Linked DNA regions of Homo sapiens. The protein of the gene in region 2 purifies or fractionates together with the protein of the main gene of each other region. This does not show direct contact. Each region holds a gene or a part of one and is shown on either strand. Other genes may lie near its edges.

Evidence for each region.
Region 1: the proteins of EGLN1 (region 2) and FKBP5 purify together in Homo sapiens (affinity purification with mass spectrometry; 2 studies listed by BioGRID and IntAct, with this or other methods). This does not show direct contact.

The regions. Positions count from the first base shown.
Region 1 is NC_000006.12:35,636,916-35,640,415, forward strand, and holds part of FKBP5 (peptidyl-prolyl cis-trans isomerase FKBP5), read right to left. Parts: intron 244-3,500; coding exon 99-243; intron 1-98. UniProt on the Homo sapiens protein: Immunophilin protein with PPIase and co-chaperone activities. Component of unligated steroid receptors heterocomplexes through interaction with heat-shock protein 90 (HSP90).
Region 2 is NC_000001.11:231,412,288-231,415,787, forward strand, and holds part of EGLN1 (egl nine homolog 1), read right to left. Parts: intron 1-3,500. UniProt on the Homo sapiens protein: Cellular oxygen sensor that catalyzes, under normoxic conditions, the post-translational formation of 4-hydroxyproline in hypoxia-inducible factor (HIF) alpha proteins.

The sequences.
Region 1 (3,500 bases), on a different chromosome or scaffold from region 2:
ATTTCTTTACTTTTAGAAAGGATAGAATCCTCTGCTCCTATATATTACAAATAGTAATAAAGCTAAGTAAAACACAACTCAAAAAAATACCCTCTTACCTTTGCCAAGACTAAAGACAAATGGTTCATTTCTATCATGACTGGAATCAAACTTCTTTCCATTTGACAATTTTCCTTTGTAATGGACATAAACTTTGTCTCCAATCATCGGCGTTTCCTCACCATTCCCCACTCTTTTGACAATCTAGAAAAGACAAACATTAAGAAAAAGGAGGTCAAACTTTTTACTTGTAATCAGAGAATAAAAAGGTCACACAGTCCATCCCAAGACATCCAGGCAGATATGCAAATATACTATTATCCATTCTTTCTAATGCCTCCCTTCATTCCTCACAATAACTCATTGTTAGAAAACTGTCCTTTACCAACTTGTCTTTTATGTTATATCTACTTTTATTGCTAATCGCACTATTTATTCCTTCAAAGAATTAACCAATAAATCCTGTTCATTGGTTTAATGCCCTATATTTTGACAGTAAACTCTTTTTTTTTTTTTTTTTTTTTTTTGAGACGGAGTCTTGCCCTGTCGCCCAGGCTGGAGTGCAATGGCACGATCTCGGCTCACTGCAACCTCTGCCTCCCAGGTTGAAGCAATTCTCCTGCCTCAGCCTCCCGAGTAGCTGGGATTACAGGCGTGCGCCTCCGTGCTCAGCTAATTTTTGTATTTTTAGTAGAGATGGGGTTTCACCATGTTGGCCAGGCTGGTCTCGAACTCCTGACCTCGTGATCCACCCGCCTCAGCCTCCCAAAGTGCTGGGATTACAAGCATGAGCCACCGCGCCCGACACTAAACTCTCTAACACAGGCTTGTGAGCTAGTCCATATACACACGGACTTAGACCAGAAAGAATGGTGGACTTTTAAAATATTCAAAAAGAAGCTTAAGCAAAGCTTCAAAGGTGTAATTTTATTTCCCTCCTTTGCTAAAAACATTAGCTCCTGACTAGATTCTGCTTGTTTATTTTCAGAAAGCCCAATTTCCTGGTAAAACAGGTTACATTTCCTATTATTTGAAACATAGTCTATCTGTAAAAAACATGAGTATCATTGCACTGCTTGATATGATACTGAATAACTTGTTTTCTAGTAAAGTATTTAACTACTGTAAAATCCAGTGTATTTATTTTGTTCTTGGCAGAGCAAGCTGCTAATGTATTTGGTCAGTTCTGGGAAAAGAAAATCAAACCCAGGTGTGTGATGGTGTAATTTGTTAATTTGTAATCTATGCCAAATTAATCATTTTTGGTAGATAACAGAGGATGGTAGCTAACATCTGATGAACATCTTTTTGGGGAAGGAGTTTGCTTTGAGTTTTATTTAAATAATTCGATTATTTGCTCCTAAATTCTTTTTTTACAAGTATACCGTCCACCTAACATAAATATCACATAAACACTGTGAACTTAAATTCCACAGCTTTCTTAACTCAAAAGCCCAAACATCTTTATTTTATTTTTTGAGACAGGGTCTTGCTCTTTTACCCAGGCTAGAGTGCATGCGGTGGTACAATCATAGCTCACTGTAGCCTCTATCACTCAGCTCAAGTGATCATCCCACCTCAGCCTCCCGAGTAGCAGAGACTACAGGCACATGCCACCACGCCTGGCAAATTTTTTTATTTTTAGTAGAGATGAGATCTTGCTACATTGCCCAGGCTGGTTTGGAACTCCTGAGTTCCAATGATTCTCCCGCCTCAGCCTCCTAAAGTGCTGAGATTACTGGTATAAGCTATCGCACCCAGCCCCAAATATTCTTTAAAGGCAAAGAAACACTACTGCCCTTCTAGGACTTCAAAAGAAAAAAAAAGTCTCAAAACATTAATCTAAAAGATATTACACAATATTCTACAAGTGCTCATGTTCACGAACTGCATGTGGTATTTGGGAGGCTATGCTCAACTGTAAGCCTCACGTGGAAGGAATCTGCATTTCTAGGACTATAAACAGTAACTGGGCATGTGGGATGAATGGCTACCAGAGAGTCAGAGAGCCATCCACACCAGCAAGTGGTACTATGGTATCACTTCAGGCTTCCCTAGCAAGATGAATTTGTACCTAAATCTAGAGTTGCCTTAAGAACACAATCTAGGTTCTATTCATTTTTAAAATATAAATCCATCTTTTATCTTCCTCAGATAGTTACTGAATTTCCAAACCAGCACTGGTTCTTTTTTTAAAAATACGTAATAGTTAATAAGATAGATTACTATAGGACAGGCACTATGCTAAGTGCTTCACCTAATCCTAATAACTCTATGAGGTTGATGGCATTATTATTCTAATTTTACAAACAGGAACTTAATCACAGAGAGGTTAACTAAATTGCCCTAGCTTGCACAGTTACTAGACCTATTTAAATCTTAACCAAAAGCCTCATGGTGAAATCCGAGGCTCTAGACAATGATAAATGATATAATTTAAAGGGCTTCAAATCTCAAATGTTTCTTAATAAGCCTAAAAATCTTGCAATTAGATTTACTCCCTAGAACAGAACAGGGTCTGAGGCAAGTTGGGGATCATGTTCTCTGGGCATGGGCACTCTGAAAAGATGAAAGGGTAAGTCGTAAACAGAGGCAGGGAGATGCTGAGGACAGCCTGCAAAGTCTCCACTGTTTCTAGAAGCTTCCTGGAATTTAGGATGAGTAACTATAGCTACAAGGTTGAGAAGCCTTCTAAAAAAAGACAATAGGATGTAAATCTATAGCATAAAGCCCTTATTCTATAGCTGCAAGTCCCCAAAATTTGACTTAGCACATAATAGCAATTCACATATATTCAGAAGAGATCCAGGCACAGAAGGCTTTCACATAAGCAAAGTTATACAAAACAAAAATTCTTACTTGCTACTGCTGGCACAAGAGATATTAAAACTCAGCATCCTGGTAATATTCAGAATGCATCAGATAATCTTTTCAGGAAAAACAAAACTTAACTATACAAAACTTACATGTGTTAACAATGGTGTAGGAGAAATAACTATTTAATGTGACTAAAGCCACTTAACCTTTCTCAGATTCAGTTTATTCACTTATAAGATGGAAGAATCAAGAGATGCTCTGATTGTCTCACCACATTGTTGTAAGAAACAAAACAAAAGAAATGCACGTGAAAATGATTAACTATAGAGTGAAGAAACACACACAGTCATGCATCGCTTAAGGACAGGGATATGTTCTGAGAAATGTGTTCTTAGATGATTTCATCCTTATGTGAACATCGCAGAGTGTACTTACACAAACCTAGATGGCCTGGCCTACTTGTACACACCCACGTTAGGTGGTTTGGCCTACTGCTCCAAGGCTACAAACCTGTACATTGTGTTACTGCACTGAATACTGCAGGCAATTGTAAAACAGTGGTATTTGTGTATCTAAGCATATCTCAACATAGAAAAAGGTACAGTAATAAAAGGTATACAAGAAAAAAAATGGTACACCTATAC
Region 2 (3,500 bases):
GGAACTATTTTTGATATTTTACGGTAATTCCATTCTTCCCAATTTTCTGTAACAGTTTTATTTTCAACAGTAGGTTTAAATGAAGATGTTTTATTTCTGACTTCATTTTGACATTGAATCTAAATCTATGCTTCCCTTATGTTGAACCATTCAATTTTCTCTAATGTTCCCCTAAAGTTCAAACTTCGTATATTTCTTTTTACGTGGATTCACAAGCCATCTTGAATGAGTGGTTCATGCAAGGAAGCACAGACATACTTATAGACAACACTAAAAGTGTTGCAAGGTTTCCTGCAATAATTCCTGAAGGCGGTTCCACTGGTAGAGCTGATACAAGCATACTGCACAGAGAAACCTTAAAACCTCTAGAGAAGAAAGGATGGGGCTAGAAGGTCAACAGTAGTAGTAGCTAGCACAGCCAATTTGAAGGAATGTGAAAATATAGAACATATAACTTTTTTCTTGTTGCTTGGCTGGGAAGTAAGTGTCAGCAAGCTATCATAAATGGCAACACTGAAAAAGTGGGGGCAAGAGAAGAAAAGCAGAAGACTTAGGTCAAAATAAAACAATAATTTCCTTCCAATCGCTCAAGCCAAAACCCTTTAAGTCATTCATGACTCTTCCATTCTTTCATACCCCACATCTAATGTATCAGCAAATCTCATTTGATTCTACTTTCAAAATATATCCAGAATATATCCTACACAAACTGATCTCATTTCCTATCCTACTACATCAATCACATATCCTTTACTCCTTCCACTAAAACCACAGTGGTTTCCTTGCTGTTTTCTGTTTCTTTTTTTGAGACAGAGTCTCACGCTGCTGCCCAGGTTGGAGTGCGGTGGCATCATCTTGGCTCACTGCAAGCTCCACCTCCTGGGTTCAAGTAATTCTCCTGCCTCAGCCTCCAGAGTAGCTGGGACTACAGGCGGATGTCATCACGCCTGGCTAATTTTTGTATTTTTAGTAGAGGTGAGGTTTCACCATGTTGGCCAGGCTGGTCTCGAACTCCTGACCTCAAGTGATCCGCCCACCTCGACCTCCCAAAGTGCCGTGCTTGCTGTTTTCTGAACACACCAAACACATTTCAAGTTAGGGCCTCTGTATTTGCTATTTAATACCATTCCTGAAAATGCTCCTCTTCCACATATCCACATAACTAATTTCCCACTTCATTCAAGTCACTATTTAAATGTCACCTTATTTTACCAATCTTATCTAAAAGAGTACTCCCTAGTCACTCTGTCCTTATCTTATTCTCCATCTTAATATTTACCACCTAACGTGCCATGTATTACTTGTACATCTGTTTATTGACTGTCCCTCCCCACCCCACACTTCCTCCAACTAGAAGATAAGGTCCATGAGAAGGGGGGCTTTTTGTTGTTATTCAGGACACCCTAGCTCCTAGAACAGGGCCTGTATGTGCAGGGTACTCAACATTTGTTGAATGAACAAATGAGTGAAAATAGTATCAAAACAGGACTCAGAAAATATAACAAAGGGTAAAGAGTACACGTATTTTGCTTTGGTAAAGAAATGGGACCTGGAACACTGAATAAGAAAAAAGAGAATTCCAAACTCATGAAAACTTTATGGGGATCTCAAGTCAACAGACACTGTCCAAGCTCTTCAGAAATGAAACTAATTCTGAATTGGTTATGGAAAAATGTGATTATGAAGTACAAAGGTGGCAGAAAAGTTGAGTTTTGACTACGAAATAAGGCATGAAATAAACTGTTGTAAGAGAAGATTTTGGTTAACCATCTATATCAATTTTTTTTTAGAAGAGATTTAGCTGAAATAAAAGGCAAAGACAAGCTCTGAAAATGGACTTAGTAAATTATCTGAATGCCATCATGTAGTCACAGACAATGTTCCAAGTGTGGAAACGAGGGCACAGTGGAAAAGAAGGTGGAATGTAAGCACAGAAGTAAAATCTAAGAAAAAGAAACTGCCCAAGAATGTGCTAGAATAAAAGGGAGACTGAAATAGTTGGGGTAGCTTTAAAGGCCTAAAGTGAAAAATTAAACAAAAACAACTAAGCTGACAACATCAATCCAAAGGCATATCAGAAAGGCACAGGCTTCAGAAAACATGGAAGAAGAACAAAGATTTCAAGCCTGATGGGAGAGAAAAGGGAAAGGAAAACAGGAGTAAACTGTCACTCAGAAACACAGAGTGGGAAGACAGCTCCTACTAAAGAAACAAGAGAGGGTAGGCCTACTTCAGGGCAAACGGCTTTAAATAGTATCAGAGGAAAGACAGATGGATAAAGAACATTTAAGAAAATTAGGTAGGAGAAAAATTTAAACTAGAATGTCAGATAAGCCAACATGTAGAATGACAGAAGCAAAAGGGAGAAGAAAGTCTCGAATGTTCAAGCATATTCTCAAAAATGGCAGAGGCCCAGTGCGATGGCTCATACCTGTAATCCCAGCACTTTTTTTTTTTTTTTTTTGAGACAGGCTCTCGCTGTCACCCAGGCTGGATGAAGTGCAGTGGTGCAATCACAGCTCACTGCAACCTCTACCTCCCAGGCTCAAGCGATCCTCCCACCTCAGCCCCTCAAGAAGCTGGGACTACAGACATGTGCCACCATGCCTGGTTAATTTTTGTATTGTTTTTAGAGATGGGTTTCACCACGTTGCCCCCTGGTCTGGAACTCCTGGGCTCAAGCAAATCCGCCCACCCTGGCCTCCCAAAGTGCTAGGATTACAGGCATGAGCCAGCACTTTGGGAGACCAAGGCAGGAGGATCATTTGAGGCCAACAGTTCTAGACCAGCCTAGACAACATAACGAGATCCCGTCTCTACAAAAAAATTTAAGAAATTATCCAGGTGTGGTGACACATGCCTGTAGTCCCAGCTACTACGGAGACTCAAGTGGGAGGATTGTTTGAGCCCAGGAGCTGGAGGCTGCAGTAAGCCATAATTGCACCACTGCACTCCAGCCTGGGCATGTTAGGCCCTGTCCTTTAAAAAAAAAAAAAAAAAAGCGTAAAATATGCCAAAATTAGTTAAGTAGAAATATGTATAAAGTTACAGATATGAATGAACTAAATCAAAGGTCTGTTGATTTTGTCACCAGCTCTATGACCTTGAAGAAGTTAATCTCTCTGGGACTTTTTTCTCTTAAAAAAATGTTATTTCTTCTCTTTTAAAAAAAAATGTGTAAATGCAGGAAAAGTGGTTAGGTAAAAAAATGGGTGATCATTCTAAGCCCTTTTTTCTCCAGTTTATCGGAGGGGAATGAGACAGGGAAAGCACAGAATTCTTAAAAGAATCAGAAAGATAGCAAATTTTTTAAATGGGAGAAGTAATAGTTAAGAACAGTTCTGCATAGCGCTTTACCATCTAAAAGGTGCTTTACATGAAACATTATATGTTCACCTCACAACAAGCCTGAGAAGCTAAAAACACAGGTATCACTGAACACCATTTTATAAACGGAGCAACTGACGACTCAAGAAATTAAGAAACTGGACTAAGGATAC